4 linked regions of the Homo sapiens genome follow. The protein of the gene in region 4 purifies or fractionates together with the protein of the main gene of each other region. This does not show direct contact. Each region holds a gene or a part of one and is shown on either strand. Other genes may lie near its edges.

Evidence for each region.
Region 1: the proteins of CDK17 (region 4) and PCCB purify together in Homo sapiens (affinity purification with mass spectrometry; one large-scale study listed by BioGRID and IntAct). This does not show direct contact.
Region 2: the proteins of CDK17 (region 4) and ACACB purify together in Homo sapiens (affinity purification with mass spectrometry; one large-scale study listed by BioGRID and IntAct). This does not show direct contact.
Region 3: the proteins of CDK17 (region 4) and SUGP1 purify together in Homo sapiens (affinity purification with mass spectrometry; 2 studies listed by BioGRID and IntAct, with this or other methods). This does not show direct contact.

The regions. Positions count from the first base shown.
Region 1 is NC_000003.12:136,256,793-136,260,491, reverse strand, and holds part of PCCB (propionyl-CoA carboxylase beta chain, mitochondrial isoform 1 precursor), read right to left. Parts: intron 1,317-3,699; coding exon of another isoform or gene 1,257-1,316; intron 14-1,256; coding exon 1-13. UniProt on the Homo sapiens protein: This is one of the 2 subunits of the biotin-dependent propionyl-CoA carboxylase (PCC), a mitochondrial enzyme involved in the catabolism of odd chain fatty acids, branched-chain amino acids isoleucine, threonine, methionine, and valine and other metabolites.
Region 2 is NC_000012.12:109,259,540-109,263,238, reverse strand, and holds part of ACACB (acetyl-CoA carboxylase 2), read right to left. Parts: intron 3,175-3,699; coding exon of another isoform or gene 3,090-3,174; intron 2,760-3,089; coding exon 2,582-2,759; intron 883-2,581; coding exon 770-882; intron 1-769. UniProt on the Homo sapiens protein: Mitochondrial enzyme that catalyzes the carboxylation of acetyl-CoA to malonyl-CoA and plays a central role in fatty acid metabolism.
Region 3 is NC_000019.10:19,310,358-19,314,056, forward strand, and holds part of SUGP1 (SURP and G-patch domain-containing protein 1), read right to left. Parts: intron 1-3,699.
Region 4 is NC_000012.12:96,393,741-96,397,439, forward strand, and holds part of CDK17 (cyclin-dependent kinase 17), read right to left. Parts: intron 1-3,699. UniProt on the Homo sapiens protein: May play a role in terminally differentiated neurons. Has a Ser/Thr-phosphorylating activity for histone H1.

The DNA.
Region 1 (3,699 bases), on a different chromosome or scaffold from region 4:
AAACTGTAAAATCCTAAAAAGAAAATACAAATCAGCAAGTCAAATATAGTGACTGGCTAGAGATGAAAACCCAGTGGGAGGAAGAAATAGAAAATTCACAGATAAAAGTTTTTAGGCCAGGCGTGGTGGCTCATGCCTGTAATCCCAACACTTTGGGAGGCCAAGGCAGGTGGATGGCTTGAGTCCAGGAGTCTGAGACCAGCCTGGGCGACATGGCAGAAGCCCGTATCTGCAAAAAATATAGAAAAAAGTTAGCTGCGCATGGTGGCACATGCCTGGAATCCCAGCTACTCGGGAGGCTGAGGCAGGAGGATTGCTTGAGCCCTGGAGACAGAGGCTTCAGTGAGTTGAGACAGCACCACTGTATTCCAGCCTATGCAACAGAGCAAGACCCTGTCTCAAAACAAAACAAAACAAAACAAAACAAAACAAAAAAAGTTGCCCGGGCATGGTGGCTCGCACCTGTAATCCCAAGACTTTGAGAGGCCAAGGCAGGAGGATCACTTGAGGTCAAGAGTTCCAGACCACCCTGGCCAACATGGTGAAACCCCATCTCTACTAAAATATAAAAATTAGCTGGGCGTGGTGGTGTGTGCCTGTAATCCCAGCTACTCGGGAGGCTGAGGCAGGAGAATCACTTGAATCCAAGAGGCGGAGGCTGCAGTGGGCAGAGATTGCTCCAGTGCACTCCAGCCTGGGCGACAGAGCGAGACTCTGTATTTAAAAAAATACATACATATAGTTTTTAAAGCATTTTCAGAAGTTTAAAAAATTAGAAAAGAAGTCTGATTTATAGATTATTCCATAGAATAAAATATCTTAAAGGAAGTTCATGAATTGTCAAGAGCAAAAGAGCTAGTCTTTGCTCTACAAAAATGATTTGAAAGGAAAAAAAAGAAATGATTTGCAGTTCTGAAGGAAAACCTATCACACAGAATTAACTCTAATATCAGATTCTATGGATATCAAACAGTCAAGCACTTCTGTTTTTAAGAAATATTTACTGTTTTATTTTACTTATCATTTTGAGACCAAGTCTTGCTCTGTCACCCAGGCTGGAGTGCAGTGGCGTAATCTTGGCTCACTGTATCCTCCGCCTCCCAGGTTCAAGTGATTCTCCTGCCTCAGCCTCCCGAGTAGCTGGGATTACAGGCACGTGCCACCAGGCCCAGCTAATTTTTGTATTTTTATTAGAGACAGTTTTGCCATGTTGGCTAGGCCAGTTTCAAACTCCTGGCCTCAAGTGATCTACCCACCTCGGCCTCCCAAAGTGCTGAGATGACAAGCGGGAGCCACTGTGCCCAGCCTATTATTTGCTGTTTTAAAAAGAAAGGTTAAAAAACAAGAATCAGAGCTCTCACTGCTTCTTCTGCTTATGGATCTTCATTATGTTCAGATGTAAAGGGCTTATTGTGGGCATAACCTCTCCTAAAACCCCCTCAAAAAGACAGTTAGGAATTAAGAACAGAATCAGCTGTGAGAATAAGAACAAGGAGACAATAGCATAGGAAGGATTAAACAAATTTGGGGGGAACTGAAAGCACAAGAAAATACCTGATTTAGAGGGAGAGAATGGAAGCTTACACACCTGCAGTGGGGGTAATCAAGGAGAAGACAACCCAGGAACCATGGAAAGTGGAGGTGAGAAGGAGGCTGAAAACAGAGACTAACAGAAGTCTCTGTTAGAAGCAGTCAGACCCCACAGGGCCTCTCCTTCACCTTGAGAGGACAGAGAATGTTTGTTCTCTAAAGGAAATTAACCAGAAGGGTTCTAAACTCACAATCGCTAGCCTAAAAGAGGAAAAGGTGAGGCTGAAAACATGCAAGATTAGGAGCCTATACACTGAATGAGTGCTGGCCCCTTTTTTTCTCTCCCCCTCAGAATACACCAACAGCCAATTATCAGGCAAGGGACTGAGGAGGCTCCCCAGAAGAACAGAAGCTCCCCAGAAAAAGCACCTAAGATATTAACATCTTGGAGATCACTATTAAAAAACACTAGCTCATCACTCCCTACCCTCAGTATCCTTCAGGGCCTGTCTCAATTGCCCCATTGTTCCTAAAGCTTTCCTCAACCCTGGATGTGATTTTCCCTTGTCTTGGGTCTACAGCATTTGCCTGGAACCTCTCACTCCATGTGCTCTGTAGTTACATCCGTTCTGTGCCATTCTGCCTATAAAATGATTCGCTTCTTCAGGGTGGGAACTCTTGTCTCAGTCATCTCCACCTTCTCCTCACTCCCACCCTACCACATGAGCATAAGAGGTGGTCAAAAGTATCAATTCAGTGAATTCTTCCATCTGCTTAATAGTGGTGAGTGAACATCATGTCCAGAAAACATCTTTGTTCTATCTCTCTTTTCAATGGTTCCTTCTGTACAAGTTTTTCTCAGCTCTCATAAATTGCACAAAACAAATGTGATTCCTTCTATTTCGGCATTTGGTAGACCAATTTATAACAGTTTTAAAACATTTCAAAGGTAATTTAATTGGTAAATGCATACTAACTACGACAGATTTTAAATTAACCAAGTATAACTATTTTATTATTTTTTTGTTTGAGATGGAGTCTCACTCTGCCACCCAGGCTCGAGTGCAGTGGCGCAAACTCGGCTCACTGCAACCTCCGCCTCCCAGGTTCAAGCGATTCTCCTGCCTCAGCCTCCCAAGTAGCTGGGATTACAGGCACCCACAACACCCAGCTAATTTTTGTGTTTTTAGTAGAGATGGAGTTTCGCCATGTTGGCCAGCTGGTCTCAAACTCCTGACCTCAGGTGATCCACCCATCTCAGCCTCCCAAAGTACTGGGACTACAGGCATGAGCCACCACGCCTAGCCAATTTTAATATCAAACTTTAGGTCTGTAAAAAGACCTAAGCATTTTAAATTATATACATATTTCCACCTCTGGAGAGAAAAAAGTCAAATCCAAAATAGTACACAACATATTCTGTGTTAGTTTTCTATTACCGCTATAACAAATTAATATAAATTCAGTGCCTTGAAACAACACAAATGTATTATCTTATAGTTCTATAATTTAGAAGCGCTACACAGGATTGACTGGGCTAAAATTAAGGTTGGCAGGACTGTGCTCCCTTCTGGAGGCTCCAGGGGAAAATGTGTTTTCTTGCCTTTACCAGCTCCTAGAGACCATGGGCACTCCTTTGCTGATGGTCCCCTTCTCCCATCTTCAAAGCCAGGTACTGCAGATCATGTCCTTCTCATATCACATCCTTATAAGCTCCTCTTCTACCTCCCTCTTCCACTTTTAAGGACCCTGTGATTATATTGGGCCCACCTGGATAAATCAGGCTACTCTCCCTATTGCAAGGCCAGCTGATTAACAACCTTCATTCCCTTTTGCGTGTAAAATAACATATTGATAGCTTTGGCTATGTGTGTGAACAAACTGTATCTGTCTTGATGCACCCTGATAAAATTTTCTGAACATATTCATGAAAGCCCAAAGCTCAGGGGGACTCTGGTTCTGAGAGTCAAGTCCCCTTTGCGAGGCTGCACCCACTGCACTCTCTCTAGTCCACATACACTGCCCAGGACACAGATGCCCTACAGGCACACACCCAACCCAGCTAAGAGGAATCTCATTCACTTGGAATAAATTCCTGGTTCTTGGGATACCTTTGTACAAGGCTAGTGCCCTGTGATCCCCCCCAAAACAGACTAAGGACTCTTCCTA
Region 2 (3,699 bases), about 13 Mb from region 4:
CGCCACTGCACCCCAGCCTGGGCAACAGAGCAAGACTCTGTCTCAAAAATAAACAAATAAATAAATAAAGATAATTACATCTAAAGATGACAAGTAAAACAAAGCTGTCATTCAAACAAAATTAGTAAAATATCTTATCTCTGATTGGGAATTCTAAAGGAACATTTTGCCACCAAAATTCTGATAATCCCCATCAGCCCCAAATACTTCAATTGCTATCTTTTGTGTATGCTGAGAAATAAATTCACGATGGCAATATATATATATATATATATATATATATATATAATGTTAAAAAGGTTGATTTAGAAATGTGAATGTCCTCCAATCATGGTAGCTCATGCCTGTAACCCCAGCATTTTGGGAGGCTGAGGTAGGTGGATTGCTTGAGCCCAGGAGTTTGAGAACAGCCTGGGCAACATGGCGAAACCCCACATCTACAAAAATACAAAAATTAGCTAGGCATGGTGTTGCGTACTTGTAGTCCCAGCTACTCAGGCTGAGATGGGAGGATGGCTTATGCCTGGGAGGCAGAGGTTGCAGTGAGCTGAGATTGCACCCTGCACTCCAGCCTAGGCAATAGAGCCAGACCTCAAAAAAACAAAACAAAACAAACAGACAAATGTGAATATCTTTAAAAATCTCACAGTTATTATAGCTGTATTTTGGTATTTTTTCATTTTATTTTTAACATCCTAGAAACCCCCAGCAGTGGGCCAGCTGGGCCTCTCTTGACCTCTGAGAGGTGAAGCCTTTGGGACCCCCTTACCTAGCTGTTCCATGAGCTTCTTGTAAGCTGGATCGATCCTTCTCATGGACTTTATCAGATCTTTCTTTCGGAACTTAATCTCCACTGTCCCCTCTGGTTCCAGAACACCACCCCTTAAAAGAGAAGAGGCAGGGATGGGGGTATATGAGGCATTGCCCAGCAAGCAAGGGCTAATGGATGTGGGGGGAGCTGGAGGGAAGAGAGCCAGAAGATCTGGGTGTCAGTCCTCAGCTCTTTTACCCCCACACATGCTGTGTGCCCTTAGACAAGTCACTTTCCCTCTCTGGGCCTCTGTATCTTTACCCACAGATGGAAAGACTGAGCCAACTGTTTAAAATAATGCTTTCTGAACTCTGGAGGGCCCCTTTCAGGTCTAAGAGTGTACGACTTTTTCCATGGCAGCATAACCCTCCTGCTCTCCAGCCACAGTCCTCTCTAACTTTGCTAATTTCTGCCCTCCTAGAGGAGGGGCACTGTTTCTGATCGCTTTAAATCTCACAAAAGCACCTTGAGAGCCCAGTGTAGTCTTGTGTGAGCTGTCCTCCCATTTCCAACATACATTTTCTTTTCTTTCTTTTTTTTTTTTTTTGTTTTTTTTTTAGACAGGGTCTCACTCTGTCACCCAGGCTGGAGTGCAGTGGCACTATCTCGGTTCACTACAATCTCTGCCTCCCGGGTTCAAGTGATTCTCCTGCCTCAGCCCCCCGAGCAGCTTGGATTACAGGCGTGTACCACCATGCCCAGCTAATTTTTGTATTTTTAGTAGAGACGGGGTTTCACTGTGTTGGCCAGGCTGGTCTTGAACTCCTGGCCTCAAGTGATCTGCCCCCCTTAGCCTCCCAAAATGCTGGGATTACAGGCGTGAGCCACCACGCCTGGCCTCATTTCCAACATTTTTATTTACCCCTTATTCTCCCCCTGCCCCCTTTTGCTTTTGACAGCTTAGAAGCCCTGAAGAATGCTATCAGTAGCTCTGAGCTTCCTGGTGGCCAGCATGAAAAGTTAGCAATGACTCCATTCAAGTGCTGCTCAGTATCCTGAGTCTTCCTGGAGGACTGACCTCAGCAGTCCCTAACAAGGGTCTAAGTGCCCTGAATGCAGGACAAGCTTGGCCCATTTGCCACCATATCATAATGTCTACCAGAATGGCTGGCATACAGTGAGGTAATCAATGGATATTCATTGAATTAGCAAATGAATGAGGGAGTGAACACAGGAATGCCGTGCCTATATTTGGAGTAGAATGACTCTTGAGGCCTTGACATCCTGTGTAGCATGTAGTTTTCACTTCAAAGTCATCAGTCACTGTGCTGTGAACATTATTGTCATCATCCTTTCTGTAAGAATCTCTGGAATAAATTCCTCCTAAGGAAAGTGCCAAGGAGGTTACCTCTCCCGCGAAGAACCGGTATCCTCTCATGCAAGTATTCATTCAGTCATTTGTTTAGCCAGTATTTTCTGACCACCTACCAGGAGAGTAAGGCACTGTGCTAGACCCTGGGATATAAAACTGAATAAAACATTTCCTATAGGAACTCATAGCTCAGAGTCTAATGAGAGATAAATGGCTCATCATATTTCCCTTTTCATCCTGGCTGCCAGGAAGTTCAAGTGCTTTTGGTCTTTCCTTTTTATTTTTTGATTGCAAACTTCCTTGGGAAGGGGAAGTGGAAACCATGAAAGAAGAGACAACATTTCTCCACCACTTACAGGTTCCAGCCACTGCATCCCTCCATGATCTCCCAAGGTCATGGGCTCTCAAGGCTGGGAGAACAAGAAAAGGCTAAGCCAGGCTAAGGGCAACACACCCACCTGCTCTCTTTGTCTGCATACATTTCTATGCACAGCGGGTTGATGGTGGCATCTATGACCACCCAGGAGCCTCCCCGGAGCTCCGCATAGGGCGGGATATAGATCAGGATGGGCTGTTTGTATTGTCTAAGGCCGTCCACGATGTAGGCTCCAAACTTCAGCACCTGGTCATACATGTCTGAAAAGCAAAGCAGCCTCCCAGTTCAGGGCCCTCACTCATCCACACATGAAACCCACTGCCCTAGTTGTCCTGGGGGTCCTGGGAGAGTGAGCCCAGCTGAGAGGCTTGGAGAGCACTGGGCTGGGATTTGAGAGTACTGATCACTCTCTAAGTGGCTGTGTGACCTCGAACAGGTCATTCACCCAGTGTGGGCCTCAGTGGCCTCATCTGTGAAGGCACAGGGAAAAACCAATCTCTAGGATTCTTTCCAACTGGAATTGAAATGCCCTCACCCATGACTGTCCCTGCCCTGCCCCACCATTTCCAGCAAAGAAAACCCTCACTAACAGTCACACTGATCCTTCCCCAATGTGCATGGGCAACATGGCCCTTATCTTCCACCAAGACACATCTCTCCAGGTCCCCAGGCACCCTACATGAAAACAAGAATGCAATAATAACAGCACTGACAATCACACTGCATGTCAGCAATTAGCTCATCAGACTCTTACCTCGGCCCTCTGAGGTTGGTCCTGTTCTTAACCCCCTTTTACAAAGGAGGGAAACTGAGGCTCAGTGATGTCACCCAGTTAACAAGGACTCACAGCAGGTCTGTCTGCCTCCCATCCAGCTCTGTCCTCAACACCCCAGTGATCCAACAGCCACTCTCTCCCAAAACATGCTTGGTGGCTTAAAAAGCCCTCACACAATTGTAAGGTCACATGAGGCTCAGAGCAGCTTTCTGCAGAGGGAAGGGTGGACAAACATCCTCCTCACCTTGCCAAATGGGGAGGTGCCTGCCCAGGTCACCCGGCAGCTCCTGGGGCTGCCCCTCCCTGACCTGCACCTCATGGTGTGACCTCTAGAAAGTGACACTTTGCCTCCAACCCTCAGTTCCTCATTGTTTTTTTTTTGTTTTTTTGTTTTTTTTTTTGAGATGGGGGTCTCACTCCGTTGC
Region 3 (3,699 bases), on a different chromosome or scaffold from region 4:
ATTTCAAGAGACTACTGCGAAGTGCGCACAGCAGGCTTCAGTACGGTAAGCTGGGAACAATCTTGTTCTGATAAAAGCAATACTCCATGTATTATCTCTGCCTGAATATTAACCCTCCAGGTCCAAATGGCCCTCCAACAAGATGGCTCCTGCTCTCTCTGCACAGCACCTGTCCTCCCTTGCTAGTTGATTATCTGGGTTGTTACTGACTCATGTCTGTCCTCCTGCTAGACCTTAGAGTTTTCCAAGGCAGGGCCTACATGTCTCTCTCTCTCTGTCTCTCTCCCTCTCTATCTATCTATCCGAAACAGAGTTTTACTCTGTCGCCCAGGCTGGAGTGCAGTGGGGCAATCTTGGCTCACTGCAACCTCCTCCACCCAGGCTCAAGAGATTGTCATGTCTCAGCCTCCTGAGCAGCTGGGATTACAAGCATGTGCCACCACACCTGGCTAATTTTTGTATTTTTGTAGAGATGGGGTTTCGCTATGTTGGCTGGGCTGTTCTCGAACTTCTAACCTCAAGCCATCCTCCCACCTCATCCTCCCAAGGTGTTGGGATTACAGGTGTGAGCCACCACACCTGACCTATTTATTTAAGAGACAGGGTCTTGCTCTGCTGCCCTGGCTAAAGTGCAGAGTGCAATGGTGCGATAACAGGGACTGCAGGCATGTGCCACTCTGCCTGGCTAATTTTTTAATTTTTTTTTTTTTTTTTGGTAGAGGTAACATCTCACTATGTTGCCTAGGCTGGTCTTGAACTCCTGGCCTCAAGCAATGGTCCCACCTCAGCCTCCCAAGTCACTAGGACTAAAGGCATGTGACACTGTTCCTGGCCAATGCCATTTTTTTGACAGGCATGAAGGGCAGCTCTGACAACAGTATATCAGCTGTGCTCAACTTTGATTTAAATATATTTAGGCCCCTGGGTTTGCCTTTGTGCTAACTTGTTAAAAACATATTTTTTAAAAAGTAAAACATATACTTTGCAAAAAAAAAAAAGAGGGAGAGAGTGAAGATAAAATATAAAATGCCCTGTGATTCTTCCAGCAAGATTGCTTTGGCTGTTTTCTTAGAAATGTTTGATGCCCAGGCTGGGCGCGGTGGCTCACGCCTGTAATCCCAGCACTTTGGGAGGCCGAGGTGGGCGGATCACGAGGTCAGGAGATAGAGACCATCCTGGCTAACACAGTGAAACCCCATCTCTACTAAAAATACAAAGAATTAGCCAGATGTGGTAGCAGGCGCCTGTAGTCCCAGCTACCCGGGAGGCTGAGGCAGAAGAATGGCGTGAACCAAGGAGGCAGAGCTTGCAGTGAGCCAAGATTGCGCCACTGCACTCCAGCCTGGGCGACAGAGCGAGACTCTGTCTCAAAAAAAAAAAAAAAAAAAAAAAGAAATGTATGATGCCCAAAGAAATGCTTGCAGATCCCAGCTCTGAGCTGCAGGCCCACATGGGTAAAGAAACACAGGCTTTGGCTAAGCATGGTGGCTCATCCCTGTAATCCCAGCTACTTGGGAGACTGAGGTAGGAGAATCACTTGAGCCCAGGAGTTTGAGGCTGCAGTGACATATGATCATGCCACTGCACGTCTGCCTGGGCAACAGAGTGAGATCATGTTTCTTAAAACAAAAAAAAGTAACAGAGGCTCATTATGGAACAAATGGAAATGTAGAAAAACTGAAATAAGCCTAGGCAATATGGAGAAAACCCCATCTCTACGAACAAAACAAAAAATTAGCTGGGTGTGGTGGCGTGTGCCTATAATTCCAGCATTCCAGAGGATCACCGGAGCCCAGGAGGTCAAGGCGGAAGTGGGCCGCAATCATGCCACTGCACTCTAGCCTGGGTGACAGAGTAAGATCATTTAAAAAAAAATAAAAAGAAAAACTGAAACAGAAAGGAATGGAAAAACCCAACAATGTCTCCCTACTTTGCAACAGCCACTATTAACACTGGTATATATCTTTATTTTGCTCTCTAAATTAGAAGTCAGAGGAAATAAGGCTGTGATCACAGCACACACTCTACTTCTTCCATTTCCTACTGTAGCACACCATCCTGCTCCAATCTCAAATTCCTCACATACGCTGCTTTTTAAACCCGCATGACGTTCCACCATATGGATGTACCCAATGGTGCAAAAAGCTCATGGAGTCCACAGGGCTAGCCTTTTTCCTTTAAATAGGAGAAAGGAATAATTTTTAGTTCATCAGAACTAAAATAACCTAAATACATCAACAAGGGGCACTGGTTAAATAAATTACGGGCCATCCACAGGGAAGATGGGGCAGCCCTGAAAAGTTGAAATTTTAGACAAGCAATCAAATACAATGTTAAAGGAAAAACAAGGCCAGGCGCGGTGGCTCACGCCTGTAATCCCAGCACTTTGGGAGGCCAAGGCGGGTGGATCACGTGGTCAGGAGATCGAGACCATCCTGGCTAAAACAGTGAAACCCCGTCTCTACTAAAAATTAAAAAAAAAATTAGCCGGGCATGGTGGGGGGCACCTGCAGTCCCAGCTACTCAGGAGGCTGAGGCAGGAGAATGGTGTGAACCCAGGAGGCAGAGCCTGCAGTGAGCCGAGATCGTGCCACTGCACTCCAGCCTGGGCAACAGCGCAAGACTCCATCTCAAAAAAAAAATAAATAAATAAAATAAATAAATAAAAAAAAACAAAAGGACAGGCTATAAAACAGTATCTACAGTGTGGTTCTACTTACATCAAAATACATTTGAATTAAAAATTGTTACAAAGGCCGGGTGCGGGACCTCACACCTGTAATCCCAGCACTTCGGTAGGCCAAAGCAGGCGGATCACCTGAGGTCAGGAGTTCAAGACCAGCCTGGCCAACATGATGAAACCCCGTCTCTACTAAAAATACAAAAAATTAGCCGGGCGTGGTAGCGGGCACCTGTAATCCCAGTCACTGGGGAGGCTGAGACAGAAGAATCACTTGAACCCAGGAAGCGAATGTTGCAGTGGGCCAAGATCGCGCCATTGCACTCCAGCCTGGACAACAGAGTTAGACTTCATCTCAAATATAAAAAAAAATTGTTAGACAAACACATCGGGCCAGGAGCAGTGGCTCACACCTGTAAACCTAATGCTTTGGGAGGCCAAGGTAGGAGGATCACTTGAACCCAGAAGTTCAAAACCAACCTGGGCAACATAGTGAGACCCCATCTACACAAAATTTAAAAATTAGCTAGGCATGGCAGTGGACATCTGTAGTCCCAGCTACTCAAGAGGCTGAGGTGGGAAGATAGCTTGAGTCCAGGAATTCCAGACTGCAGTGAGCTATGATAGTGCCACTGTACTGCAGCCTGGGTGACAGAGTGAGATCCTGCCTCTGAAATAAAACAGGCCCGGCACGGTGGCTCAAGGCTGTAATCCCAGCACTTTGGGAGGCAGAGGCGGGTAGGTCACCTGTGGCCAGGAGTTCAAGACTAGCCTGGTCAACATAGTGAAACCCTGTCTCAACTAAAATACAAAAAAATGGCCGGGCTCAGAGACTTATGCCTGTAATCCTAGCACTTAGGGAGGCCGAGGTGGGAGGAACAACCTGAGGCCAGGAGTTAAAGACCAGCCTGGCCAACATGATGAAACCCCATCTCTACTAAAATACAAAAATTAGCCGGGCACGATGGTGGGTTCCTGTAATCCCAGCTACTCGGGAGGCTGAGCAGGAGAATCACTTG
Region 4 (3,699 bases):
CACAAACACACACACACATACTCAATGAAAAGCTTCTTTTTCCACCAGAAATAACATTACAAGTCAATAATATAAAATACTAAAATCTAAGTTGTTATACTTCAAAAAATGTTTATTCTAAAATAATACTAAAAAACACATATTAACTAATTTAAAGAAGAGCAAGTCTAAATTTGGAGTGATAAGGGCTTCAATGCTGTTACTTGATAGTTTCTCACAAGTATAGACCAGGTGCAGTGGCTCACACCTGTAATCCCAGCACTTTGGGAGGCCAAGGCAGGCAGATCATGAGGTCAGGAGCTCAAGACCAGCCTGGCCAACATGGTGAAACCCTATCTCTACTAAAAATACAAAAATTAGCTGGACATGGTGGTGCACGCCTGTAATCCCAGCTACTCGGGAGGCTGAGGCAGGAGAATCACTTGAACCCGGGAGGCGGAGGTTGCAGTGAGCCAAGATCACGCCACTGCACTCCAGCCTGGGCAACAGAGTGAGACTCCATCTCAAAAAAAAAAAAAATTTCTCACAAGTATTTACCAACGTTGTTTACATTATTGAATATTAACACATACTAATAACAAACATTACCCATCAATTATAAGAATAGTAGATTAATATGACTTGAGAAGGCCAAAGTTAGTAACTGAACTAGAATACAATGAAAGAGAAATTATCTTTGGGTCCTTTTCCCTTGTTTACAAACATGTACACAAAATGTAGAGTATTCTTGAACATATTTACACTAACAAATGCATAAAAAGAAACAAAAATGTGTTATTAAAAGGTAGAGAAGCACGGGTACGGTGTCTCATACGTGTAATCCCAGCACTTTGGGAGACCGAGGTGCACAGATCACCTGAGGTCAGGAGTTCGAGACCAGCCTGGCCAACATGGTGAAAACCCATCTCTACTAAAAATACAAAATTTAGTTGGACGTGGAAGCTCACACCACCTGTGGTCCCAGCTACTCCGGAGGCTGAGGCACGAGAATAGCTTGAGATCACGCAACTGCAACACTGCACTCCAGCCTGGGCCAACTGAGGGAGAGACTCCGTCTCAAAAAAAAAAAAAGAAAAAAAAAAGGTAGACAAAAAATATTTATTATTTTATTTTTATTTATTATTTATTCAAAAAATCTATAATTTTTTTCCCCCGAGACAGAGTCTTGCTCTGTCGCCAGGCTAGAGTGCAATGGTGCGATCTTGGCTCACTGCAACCTCTGCCTCCCAAGTTCAAGCAATTCTCCTGCCTCAGCCTCCCGAGTAGCTGGGATTACAGGCATGCACCACCGTGCCCAGCTAATTTTTGTATTCTTAGTAGAGACCGGGTTTCACCATGTTGGCCAGGCCGGACTGGAACTCTTGACCTTGTGATCTGCCCGGCTCAGCCTCTCAAAGTGCTGGGATTACAGGCGTGAGCCACCATGCCTCGCCCATATAAATGTTTTAAATTTTTTTAGCATCTTGATTTTTAATTCATTTTGAGCAACATGTCCTACCTTACATATTTTATATACTGCAATCTTTTAATGTAGTAAAACCAGTTCAATGTACTTTAAATCGCATTTTGATGAGCTTTTCTAATATCTCACTCATTGTTTATAGAGTGCAGACAGTAACATTGACTTTTTAACATCTCATCCTCATGGAGACAGTGTAGAGTAGTGGTTTGAATGCCTAAACTGGAATGTCAATGTTACCACAGAGGTCGGTCCCTGGAAACAATGACTTAACCTAAGGTCTTTGTTTCTTCATTTGAAAACAGGCAGAATACCTATATGAAGCGCTTATTGTGAGGATTTCACAAAATAATACTTAGCATAGTGCCTAGTAGAGGAGGTAAATAATTAACGTTAATTTCTTTCACAAAGTTTATGTTATGGACTGAAGATCTGTGTACCCCCAAAATTCACATGTTGAAGTCCAAACCTCCCAGTGTGATGGCTATTAGAGGTGGACCTTTGGGAAGTAATTAGGTTTAGATTAGGTCCTAAGAGTGAGACCCTCTCATGACGGGATTTGTGCCCTTTTAAGTAGAAAAGAAAAAGACATCCTCACCTCTCCCTCCCCTCCCTCCCACTTCACCTGCAGACAGGGAGGAAAGGACTTAAGAGTGCCCAGGGAGAAGACAGCTGAGAGGGCAGGTGCTTAGCTGATTTCAGACTTCCAGCCCCGGACCTGTGAGAAAATACGTCTGTGTTTTAAGCCACCTCAATGTATGGTATTTTGTTATAGTACCCCAAGTAAAATAAGGTGATATCAAAAAATATTTTCAAAAGGAGACTTTGGAGAGCAAGATAATTTTCACCTCATCCCAATATGCCATAGATCTGTAAATCTACATCCTCAAACAGTATTCAGTATTGCAGGTTACTGCAGAACACGGTAACATTACTTATTAGATTTACTGGTAGATGTCTATTGATTTTCCATGTTGGCCAACAGGGAGAGGCAGACAGGCTGGGAACAATAAACTACACTGAGGTATATTCAATACACTTCTCTGGCCCTTGGCAATTCCTCTTGCCAGGTCAATATTTTGCAGATATCAAAAGTAACCACCAACTAACTATATTGGAAGCAAAATAATGACAAAGAATCCACTGATGACAATAAAAATTCTTAAAAGCCAGTCTAACTGGTCCTCTCCCCATCAGTTCAAAGAAATTGCCAACATTGTAGATTGAATGCTAGTGAACTACACTAGGTTCGCTATTACAGGCAGTTTTTTTAACTTCAAAAATGCTACATAAAGCACATTTTTAAATGCCATAAACCTATTGTTTATCTTCTGCATTTAAAATGCAAAATGCCATTATCACTTTATGAAATATACTTTAAATACCGATTTCCTGTTTAAAAGTTTAGGCAAAAATTATCCATTCAAAATTCAAAAGAACCTAAAACTATTCATCCTTCCCATGTATGAAAACTGAGACAATTTTTTAAACAGGTAAAATTCCCTAGAGAATATAATTTTTACAATATAGCAATAAAGTAATTATCCATCCTGAAAGTCTAAAACAAACAAAACAAACAAACAAACAAAAAATACAAAGAACATCCTGGAAATCTAAATGCCATGTAAAAGAATGCTAGCCCATGACGGTAAAATTTTCTAAAGACTAGGAAACATCAATAAAGATTCAAAATGTAATGTCTTATAAATATTCAGCATTAGTAGACAATAACAAAGAAAATCATAGGGTAAAAATTTTTGTGTTCACAGATAACTGTTATAATATTAAGGGACATCGTCATCTCCACTTTTGAATAGCTACCCCAGTTGCCATTACAGCTTCCATTGTTCAAAATAAAATAGTTGCATTGTTTTTCAGTGAAAGGAAAGAAGGAAAATATTGCTGAAAATAAGGAAAAAAACAAGCCTCAACAAAGCAACAAAATGATTTTATATGCCATCTAGTTTCGCCATAATTGTAGGACTGAACTGGTATCTGAAAACTAAATATATCAACAAACATATACGTTAAAATCTGCGCTTAGTCAACATAGCTATCCCTGTGCTACCGGGCAAATAAAATTTAAATTTTCTATTTTTTTTTTTATTAAAGCAATGACTTATTAGAGACTACTGGTATATGAAGCTGCAATACACATGGGGATCAATTCCTCCAATTTCATGTTTCCTTACTATGTATGTATCTCTTTTTGTTTTTTCATTCTGGTAACCAGAGTACAT